Homo sapiens: one gene and its partners. The protein of the gene in region 3 purifies or fractionates together with the protein of the main gene of each other region. This does not show direct contact. Each region holds a gene or a part of one and is shown on either strand. Other genes may lie near its edges. The genes, in order: PICK1, VMA21 and ATP6AP2.

Region 1 (3,650 bases), on a different chromosome or scaffold from region 3:
ATGGGCTTGTCAAGAGGCTAGAGGAGCTGGAGCGGACCGCTGAGCTATACAAAGGTGGGTGGGGGGTGGCCTCGTCCTGGCACTAGCTCTACCCCAGGGAGCATGCTCTCAGCAGAGTGGCAACAGGGGTGCTGGCACTAGGAATGCCAGCCTACAAAATACTAGGACCATGGGCATTAAGAGTTCTTAAGAATATATACTTCTTCTGAATTTAAAAATAACTCAGGGGCCTGGTGCAGTGGCTCACGCCTGTAATCCCAGCACTTTGGGAGGCTGAGGTGGGCGGATCACTTAAGGTCAGGAGTTTGAGACCAGCCCGGCCAACATGGTGAAACGCCATCTCTACTGAAAATACAAAAATTAGCCAGGCATGATGGTGTGTGCCTATAATCAGTACTCGAGAGGCTGAGGCATGAGAATCGCTTGAACCAGGGAGGCAGAGGTTGCAGTGAGCCAAGATCACACCACCGCACTCTAGTCTGGGCAATAGAGCAAGACCCTATCTCAAAAAAAACAAAACCTGATACTCATAAAAATTCAGAGAATAGCACTTGTAAACATAGCGAGAGTCCCCCGGAATCCCACACTGTCCCAGGGCTAAAGCCCACAGCAGGCTGTGTACCCCTGCATCTTACAAAATGCTGGCGCCCCTGTCTGATGGGGCTCCTCACGGGTTGGGTCGGACTGAGCTTTTACCCCTGGGCTGTGGTTGGGCGGTGGGGAAAGGCCATGTATCAGGGCCTAGCAGAGGCCTTGGGTGGCATGGGCAATTGGAGGCCTTGCCCTGGGCCAGTGTGGTCCCCGCCATGCGTCCCCATTCCGCATCACTCGGTCTCTCCCACAGGGATGACGGAACACACCAAGAACCTCCTACGGGCCTTTTATGAGCTGTCGCAGACTCACCGGGGTAATGGCATCCCCCAAAGCTGTGGTGTGACCGTGGGCAATCCCTGGGGCCTCTCACTCCCATGCTGAGGTGGGTCAGACCCACAGCGCCTGACCTCAGGCTCCCTCTGGGCTGGGCCTGGTCCCAGGTGCTGGGATTTGCGATGGGCCTGCGGGGAACATCTAGATCAGCTGGTCTCTTAAGGGCCGCAACGATGAACAGGCCCCACCCTGTCTCCTCACACTGCCACTGGCAGTACACAAGGCCCTTGCTTATTTATATTTCTGACAACCTGTAACTCTGGGCAGGCCGACTGCAGCTGACCCCAGCTACTGCAGAAAATGAAGCCCAGACAAAGGAGAGGGCCACACTGCTCCCAAGTGGTGGAGCTGTTGTTCCAATCCAGGTGTCTAGACTCGGACCAGTGTTCTGCCTCAGGCGGCGCCACCTCCACAAACCTTGACCCAGTCTTCTCTCACTGGTCCCTCTGGGGAATGAGGGCCAACTCCCTTGGTGTGTACACTCAGGACTCTAGGGGGCACAGACCAGCTCTTGGAGGTGTCAATCCAGTTTCCTCCAGGTGTAGACTCAGCTCCTTCAGGGGGTTTAGACCAGCTCTCTTGGAGGTGTAGCCCCTGTGCAGACATTGGCTTCCAGCCTGCCAGGCCCCCTGCCCTGCTTCTCCCCAACAAACCCCTGGCTTCTCTTAGGGGGCCAAGTAGGGGCAGCCTTCAAGGCAAACTTGTCCTGCAGCCTTTGGGGACGTGTTCTCCGTGATCGGGGTGCGGGAGCCCCAGCCAGCTGCGAGCGAGGCTTTTGTGAAGTTCGCCGATGCCCACCGCAGCATCGAGAAGTTCGGCATTCGGCTTCTGAAAACCATCAAGCCGGTAGGTCCTATTGAGCATGTGTGTGTCTGGCGTGTGAGGGTGGGGAGGGGAGAGTGTGGCATGCAGAGAAGGTCGTATGCTGGAGTCCTGTGCCTGGGTACAGCCTCTGGCTCAGTCACCCACACAGTGGACTGTGGGTGAGTCACTGTGCCCCCTTGGGCCTTGCCATTGACCTCTGGGCTGGCTTCTGACCCTGGCTCGCCACTGAGTCACAGCTTGCCCTAGGCCTGGCACTAGTCTTCTCATCCTTGAGAGGGACAAGGCATCAGGGAGCACCATCTGGCTCTGATAGTCGAGTCCACCAACAAGGGTGACGCATCAGTGCCATTCATTGTCACCCTGGCACACCCCTGCCGTGACAGCCTCAGCATCCACCCACCCTCTTCCAGATGCTGACGGATCTGAACACGTACCTCAACAAAGCCATCCCGGACACTCGCCTCACCATCAAGAAGTACCTGGACGTGAAGTTTGAGTACCTGGTGAGTAGTCCAGGTGCCCAGGCTGCTAGGGCAAGCGCCCACCCTGGAGATCTGCCCCACTTCAGTCAGCCATGCTGCGGCCAGCGAGGCCAGCCAGAGCTGACAGCATGTCTGCTCCAGGTGTGGGCCCAGAGGCCCAGGGAGGTGCAGCCAAAGCCCTGCTGCGCCTGCACAAAGAAGCATCTGAGAGCCTGGGGCGGGCATGGCTCTCGCTGTGTGCACTCTGACCCCTTGGGATTTGTTGCCTTTAAACAATGGGTTAGACTAGGTGAGTGAGCATAAAATGGGTGTCAGTGAACGTTCGTGAGTTTTACATTTAATTATTCTACAGTCAAAGGAATTGAGAGAAAATGCTCTATTAAGCAAGCCAAGGTTCCTTTGCTGCAGGACTTATCAGAGCCTTTGCTAGGCTGATGTGCAGTGTGAATTTTCAAGGGTCTTCCTAAGCTCCTTTAACGACAGACCCCTTTTTCCCCAGAGCATCTCTTGGGCCTTGAGTTTGGTCAACTCGGCCGCCTAAGCCTCAGGCCCTGTCATCCCTCAGCACCTGCCGCTGCCCGCTCTGGGACTCCCTGAACACCTGCGCCAGCCTCTCCTGCTGCGTGTGGGTGATGGGGGTGGAGCTGGGGACCTGGGGTGGGGGTAGTAGCCACTCTGACAGCCTCACCTGTCCCACACAGTCGTACTGCCTGAAGGTGAAGGAGATGGATGACGAGGAATACAGCTGCATTGTGAGTGTTGGAGGGGGTGGGGGGCTTGTACTTCCCCCCACCTGGTCTGCCAGGGATAGCAGGTGGCTCAGGCCAACCCGGGAGAGACCGGGGGGACTTGGCTGGACTCTCGTTCCTGGAGATTTAGGGCCATCTTCCCAGTCCCGCTCGCTGGGCCTCGGGGTGCTGGGCACCCGGCCGGGAACCACTCCCTCAGTCTGGGGGACTCTTGGAGGGAAATCGGATTTTCTTCACTCCTATGAGGCGCTTTTAAGTGTTTGATTTTTCTGCTGTCGGGATCCATTTCGTGGCCAGTGTTCATTGAATGTGGCAGAGGTTTGGGTTTGGTTTTTTCCTCTCTTCAAAGCTATCACTGAGTGCTTCTGAGAAACACTGAAGTCTCAGAAATGAGGTCTCAGGAATGAAGAACAGCCGTGGCTTTGAAAGCACAGTGCGGTGCGAGGCCGTCCCTGAGCAGGCACTCCTGTCCCACCCCCGCCCCAGGCCCTAGGCGAGCCCCTTTACCGGGTGAGCACCGGCAACTATGAGTACCGCCTGATCCTGCGCTGCCGCCAGGAGGCGCGCGCCCGCTTCTCCCAGATGCGCAAGGATGTGCTGGAGAAGATGGAGCTGCTGGACCAGAAGCACGGTGAGCGCCGCCCTCCTCCCCGTCCGCTCTCCATTT
Region 2 (3,650 bases), about 110 Mb from region 3:
CCAATAGGAACAGTGATCATTAAAGCTGTGAAGAACAGGAGCGTCTTCAGTGTAGATGCTAATGAGCTTTCATTTCTGGAATAAAGTAAACAAAGAGAAAATCAGAACCTGCACAGTCATATCCAAACGCTCTTATGTCCCTGAAACTATAAACATCCACAAATGAGATGCTATGCAGGAGGAAGATCACAGGCAGGGACTCGTAATCCGAAGATCCTAGAGAACCAGCTGTGGGTAGTGGGAATTTCTTGAGCTGGAACATGAAGATTATACACCACCTTTAGGGACTGTCATTCATATCCAGTGTAAGACGAAGCGTCAGGGCACCTCAGATCAACTGCCAACAAGCTGGGTGAACAAACTAAGTGAAGAAACTCAGTGCCCCTGCCTCTGGAACTGGAGCTTTTACCCAGGGAAGCCACGGCGGACAGCGGCACCAGTGCCCAACCCATGCGGCAACCGTGTCCACCAGCACCAGACACCAGAGCTGGGAACGCAGCAGGCACCATGGGTGGATCAGCGCGCCCTCTTTTGCTGGAATCAGAGCTTCCGTCACGGGAAGCGACCAGCTTGCTGTCCTCCAGCATGAGACAGTGGACCAGGGAACTAACGAGGCAGACACACCTGTGCACCCTCCCACACTGGAATCAGAGCTTTTGCCCAGGGAAGCCACTGTCACACTGGTCCCTGAGCCCACGCAGCAACCCTGACCACCAGCACCGGACACCAGACCAGGGAACTCGGCAGGCACCACAGGTGGAGCAGTGTGCCCTCTCCCGCTGGAATCGGAGCTTGCATCTGGGAAAGCTGCCAGCCTCCTGTCCTCCAGCACCAGACAGTGGACCAGCAAACTAACCAGGTGGAGCCGACGCACCAGCGTGCCCTCCCCCACTGGGATCAGAGCTTTGGCCCAGGGAAGCCACTGCCACACCAGTCCCTGAGCCCGTGCAGCAACCCTGACCACCAGCACCAGACACCAGACCACTGAAGGAGGTAGGCAGGGCGAACGGACCAGTGCGCCCTCCCCAGCTGGAATAGGAACTTCTGTTATGGGTGAAAAATCGAGCTAGAGGGAATACTTCCAAACACGTTTTAAGAGGCTCCAATCACCTTGATACCTAAGCCAGACAGACACAGCAAGAAAACTACAGGACAACATCACTGATGAACACTGGTGCAAAATTCCTCAATAACATATTTTCAAACCAAATTCAACAATAATCAGGCCAGGTGTGGTGGCTCACACCTGTAATCCCAGCACTTTGGGAGGCCGAGGCAGGCGGATCACTTGAGGCCAGGAGTTCGAGATCAGCCTGGCCAACATGGCAAAACCCAGTCTCTACTAAAAATACAAAAATTAGCTGAGAGTGGTGGCGTGTGCCTATAGTCCCAGCTACTTGGGAGGCCAAGGCACAAGAATCCCTTGATCCTGGGAGGCAGAGGTTGCAATGAGCCAAAATCACACTCCAGTCTGGGCAACAGAGCAAGACTCTGTCACAAACAAACAAAACCAATACATCAAAAAGATTATATATTATGACCAAGTAGGATCATCTCAGTTGATGCAGAAAAAGCACTTGACAAACTTCCGCATCCTTTACTGAGCTGAAAAAGAAATCAAGAAAACAATCTCATTTATAATAGCATTAAAAAAAAATACTTAGGGGCCAGGCTCAGTGGCTCATGCCTGTAATCCCAGCACTTTGGGAAGGCTGAGGCTTGAGGCCGGGAGTTTGACGCAAGCCTAGGTAACACAGCAAAACCCCACCTCTACAAAAAAAAATTTTGATAATTCGCTGGGCATGGTGGCACGTGCCTGTAATCTCAGCTACTCAAGAGGCTGAAGTGGGAGGATTGTTTGAGCCCCAGAGGTCAAGGCTGCAGTGAGCAGTGATTGGGGCACTTTACTCTGGCCTGGGTGACAGAGCAAGACTCTATTTCAAAAAAAAAGAAACTTAGGAATAAATTTAACCAAGGCGATGAGTGACTTGTACACTGAAAAGTATAAAACACTGATGAAAGAAATTGAAGATGACACAAATAAATGTAAAGATATCCTGTGTTCATGGATTGGAAGAATTAATACTGTTGAAATGTCTACAGCACCCAAAGCAACATACAGATATAACACAATCTCTATCAAAATTACAGTAGCATTCTTCATTAAAATAGAAAAACAATCCTAAAATTCATCATACAGAACCACAAAAAGCCCCAAATAGCCAAAGCAACATTGAAAAAGTTGTAAGCATCACACTTTCTGATTTAAAATATTACAGTTATAGTAATCAAAACAATATGGTATTGGCATAAAAACAGAAACATATAACAATGAAACAGAATAGAGCCCAGAAATAAATCCAAACATATATGGCCAACTAATCTTCGACAGGGGTGTTAAGAGGAACACAATGGGGAAAGGACAGTCCCTTCAATAAGTGGTACTGGGAAAACAGGATTTCTACATGCAAAGAAAAAAACTGGACTCTTACACCATAAACAAAAATCAACCCAAAATGGATAAAATAACTAAAACATAAAGATATAAAGTTTTAAGACATAAAAGAACACAGAGGGAAAGGTCCTTAACATTGGCCTCAGTAATGATTTTTTGGATATCACACCAAAAGCTCAGGCTACAAAAGAAAAAATAAAGCGGCTTGCATCAAACTAAAAAGCTTCTGTACTGCAAAGGAAACAATCAACAAAATGAAAAGGCAGCTTACAGACTAGGAAAACATATTTGCGAACCACCTATCTTGTAAGGGGTTAATACCCCAAAATTTATAAAGAACTCTTACAACTCAGCAGAAAAACCACCTGATTAAAATATGGACAACAGCTGGACAGACATTTCTCCAAAGACATAAAAATGGCCAAGAGATAAATGAAAATGTGCTCAACATCACTAAATCATCAGGGAAATGCAAATCAAAACCACTATGAGATATAACCTCACACTTCTAAGGACAGCTATTATCAAAAAGGCAAGTGATAACAAATGTTTGTAAAAGTGTGGAGAAAAAGAAACCCTACTACATTGTGACTGGAAATGTAGACTGGTACAGCCATTATGGAAAACAGTTCCTAAAGAAATTAAAAATAGAACTACCACACAGCCCAGCAATCTCTCTTCTGGAATATAAGCAAAGGAGATGAAATCACTACCTCGTAAAAATATCTGCACTTCCATGTTCATTGCAGCATTATTCACAATAGCCAAGATTTGAAAACAACCTACGTGTATGTAGACAGACAAAATAAAGAAACCGTAGTGTATATATACAAGGGAATATTTTATTCAGCCTTAAAAGAGGACATCTGCCATTTGCCACAACATGGATGGACCTGGAAGACATGTTAAGTAAAATAAGCCAAACGCAGAAAGACGAATACTACATGAGCTCACTTATATGTGGAATCTTTAAAAAAAAAAAAAAAAGGTCAACGGTCAACTACACAGGGACAGAGAATAAAACAGTAGTTACCATGGCGGTGGGGGTGGGAGGCTGGAGGGGAGGAAATAGGAAGATATACATCAAAGGACACAAAGCAGTAGATATATGGATTAACAAGTGAGATATCTAATGTACAAGAGGACTATAGGCAATAAAGTTGCATGGTATTAGGGACTTTTGTAAATAAGATTT
Region 3 (3,650 bases):
AGTAGATCTATGACCTCTGGCTTGTTTGAATTAATAGGTGGCAACCCTCGTGCTAAAATGTGATGTTATTTACCACAGCTCAACTCACAAAAAGGATCAGTTTATTCATGAGAGTCATAAGAAAATTACACTAAAGAAGAATCTACCCCAGCAGTAAATGTGCACAATCTTTCATTTTCTAAAATAGCAAAATTTCCAAAATTTCAAGTAGTATAAGGAATGGGAGGCCAGATGCAGTGGCTCAAGCCTGTGATCCCAGCACTTTGGGAGGCCAAGACAGGATTGCTTGAGGCCAGGAGTTCAAGACCAGCCTGGACAACAGAGTGAGACCCTGTCTCTATTTTTTAAAAAGACGGAAATTAATGATATTCATGTATTCATTGAATAACTGCACTTACTTCATTGTTCCTACTCAGAGAATTGAGGGGGAGTGAACTGAGAACAGAGTTTTCTTGAAACAGGCGATTACGGAGCTGGCGCAAGGTGACTGAAAGGTCTTCAAACACTGAGTTTGCCTTCCCTACCATATACACTCTCTGTAAGAAGAATAGAAAATTTTAAGTTGCTCAAATTCTACAGATTAGTTCCAATACCCAGAGGTATGACAACATTGTTCATAAATTAGTTTTATATTTTCATAATAAAATTACATTTCATAATTTTCAAATAATAAAAGCTTATTTTTTAAAATGTCTTGAATAAAACCCTTATCACTTACTTCCTCACTGGGAGCCAACTGCAAAACAACAGGAGTTTCCTCAGAAAATAAGGAGTGAATGGAATTTGCAACACTGTCAAGACTAAAAGGAACTGCCTGAAATTTAAGAGTAAGAACGCAATTATTATGTGAACCAAAGTGGGAAGAAAAATCATTCAGATGGTATTTAAAAAGAAGCCTTAAACTTTTTTCCAGCACTTTCTATGGAAATTTAGAAGCCCGAAATCATTTCCAAACAAGCCCTTTTGAGGGCACAGAAGATTAAACAGCCCCCTGGTAAGCCAAGTCTGTATCTCCCATCATGCCTCAGTGGAAAATAACTTAAACCTGATGGACACAACACTATATCTAGCACAAACCATTTTCTGGTGGTCATTCATGTATTTGAAGCAGCAATACATTTGGTTTCAATATTGACTAAATGTGCCACGATGAATGCATATTCCACAATAAAGTATTTAATTTGCATTTAAGAGGTTAGAGGAATCTGAGTATTGAATTTAATTGAAATAAAAATGGAATTCATCTTTCATTTCAAAATTTTAAAAATGTTTAATGAGATTTAACATTTGTCTTCAGATAGCCTAAAGACTCTTAGATAAGGTGTTAAGTATGTCACAAGGTTTTTGAAGCCTTTATCTTAGGACATGTTGATATTATTAGATTGAAATAACCAATGGTGATAAGACCTACTTTTTTCCTTCAATTTTTTTATTAAAGTGCAAAATACATATAATATAGTATACAAATCTTGGGGTAACAGCTCAACAAATGTTTACACATGCATGCACTCAGGTAGCCCAGCCAGATCGACACAGAACACTATCAGCGCCCTCGAAGTACTACCTCCACCCTCAAGGGTAACAAAAATTCTGACTTCTATCCCCATAGATTTGTTTTGCAGTACATGATTTAAAAAAATAAATTACAGTTATTTTTCCCCTAAAAAAATTATTTCATTCCCAGTATTACTGTATTAAAACAAGCAGTACAGTCATGTTTTTGTTTTAATGGAGATTTCTTACATTGATCTTTCATTCAGTAGTTCCCTTACTACTTAAAGATTCATGTTTACAAGTAGCAAAGTAACGCTAATATGATACAGGCAGAAATCAATGTGATTATGTCTTACTGATAAAATCCCAGCATCACATTTTTTTTTTTTTGAGACAGAGCCTCACTCTGTTGCCCAGGCTGGAGTACAGTGGCGCGATCTCGGCTCAGTGCAGCCTCCACCTCCCAGGTACAAGTGATTCTCCTGCCTCAGCCTCCTGAATAGCTGGGATTACAGGCACGCACCACCACGCCTGGCTAATTTTTGTATTTTTAGTAGAGACGGGGTTTCATCAAGTTGGCCATGCTAGTCTCAAACTCCTGGCCTGATGTGATCTGCCTGCCTTGGCCTCTCAAAGTGCTGGGATTACAGGCGTGAGCCACCATGCCCAGGCCCAGCATCAATATTAAGTGATCAATTTTATGATTCTGTGAAATGAAATAATTTTTTTCTCTTACTCAAGATGCTTATTAACTCTTCCCCAAATTCTCTCAAAATGAGTTAATGAGTAAGTGAAGAGGGGGAAGAGAGTTCAAAGTTGCAAAAGCATACTGCTAGCAGCCGCCCTGAATCATCTATAGGTGCTTTCCTTTAGCGATCATAGAGTTTACCTCCTCAGGCTGTGAGGGGAATACATGAGCAAATGATGCAAACTTTCCAGCCTCACTTCACTTAGTGAAATGGCGCTCGGTTCAGGAAAGTTGAAGATTAGGAACCATGTCCATAGCGATCAAATTGAAGCAGCTCATGAATCAAATGAACACCAATGAAGGAAAAGAAATAATTATATAGGCAGCTAAGCTCAAAAAGTAAAAAGCTTGGCTGCTTAATATCGAATGATGGTTTTTCTCTCACTGTATTGTAAGGGAGATGCATATCTGTCCTCAAATTTCTGTACCTGTATGACTTGAAATTCTAACTAAAACAGCTAGCTAATCAAATGGAAGCTTCGTTAAATGGAATTCTAAGATACTCTGATTTTTATGTTTTGTGGGGTTTGCCCCTGAATCTTTTATCTCATTTACCATCTTCTGCTAGGAAAAGCATTGAGCAGCCAACCAGGGCCAAGCAATAAAATGAGCTCCTCACACAGCACAGCTTCTTCTCATGTAAAATGAGGCTAGTCTGTTTTTAAATCTTTATTTTTGGATTACATGCTAATAAAAATCTCAAAATGGCATTTTGGATTTTTATAATTTTAAAGAAAATCTTCTGCAATGATTTTCACAGAAATCACATAAAAAATGACTTAAATGCTCCCTGTGAAATAATCTGCCTTTTGATCTGTATTGTTCCCTTCCTTCTACTTTATGTGTATTTACTCTGAAGTTCTTCCGCTTTCTTTAGCTCATTAATTTCCATTCTTAGACAACCTAAATTGTCTAAAACATGCATTTAAGGCTATAAATTTCCCTTTTCTTACCACGTTAGCTGCACCTCCCAATTTTGTAAATAAATGCTACATTCATTGTTACTCAGTTCCAAATAATTTAAAAAGTTCCACAGTGATTTCCTCCTCAACCCATGAATTATTTAGGAGTGCATCTATTCCAACTATCTTTTCTTGTTGACTTTTTTTGCTTTTAACATCTCTAAATAAGACACTTAAATTACATCTCCTGATTTTTCAATTTTAGGTCTTGTCTATTTACTATCCATTATAGAAAATGAGGCTTTAGCTCTCTCACATCACCAACCACTGCCCCATCCATGCGCTGAGCCATCCATGCGCTCTGCTTCTGTTTCTATCTCCCCACTCTTACCCAATAGTTATATCAAAATTTTCACTTGATCAGCATCATTTCATTATTATGACAATGCAAATAATACTCAGCCTAGCTCATACTACACAATCACTACATTTTCCTTGCTTTCCTT

What was found.
Region 1: the proteins of ATP6AP2 (region 3) and PICK1 purify together in Homo sapiens (affinity purification with mass spectrometry; 3 studies listed by BioGRID and IntAct, with this or other methods). This does not show direct contact.
Region 2: the proteins of ATP6AP2 (region 3) and VMA21 purify together in Homo sapiens (affinity purification with mass spectrometry; 4 studies listed by BioGRID and IntAct, with this or other methods). This does not show direct contact.

What each region holds. Positions count from the first base shown.
Region 1 is NC_000022.11:38,070,838-38,074,487, forward strand, and holds part of PICK1 (PRKCA-binding protein), read left to right. Parts: coding exon 1-54; intron 55-844; coding exon 845-907; intron 908-1,639; coding exon 1,640-1,773; intron 1,774-2,162; coding exon 2,163-2,255; intron 2,256-2,935; coding exon 2,936-2,986; intron 2,987-3,469; coding exon 3,470-3,614; intron 3,615-3,650. UniProt on the Homo sapiens protein: Probable adapter protein that bind to and organize the subcellular localization of a variety of membrane proteins containing some PDZ recognition sequence.
Region 2 is NC_000023.11:151,400,056-151,403,705, reverse strand, and holds part of VMA21 (vacuolar ATPase assembly integral membrane protein VMA21), read right to left. Parts: intron 76-3,650; coding exon 1-75. UniProt on the Homo sapiens protein: Required for the assembly of the V0 complex of the vacuolar ATPase (V-ATPase) in the endoplasmic reticulum.
Region 3 is NC_000023.11:40,594,413-40,598,062, reverse strand, and holds part of ATP6AP2 (renin receptor precursor), read right to left. Parts: intron 815-3,650; coding exon 719-814; intron 537-718; coding exon 399-536; intron 1-398. UniProt on the Homo sapiens protein: Multifunctional protein which functions as a renin, prorenin cellular receptor and is involved in the assembly of the lysosomal proton-transporting V-type ATPase (V-ATPase) and the acidification of the endo-lysosomal system.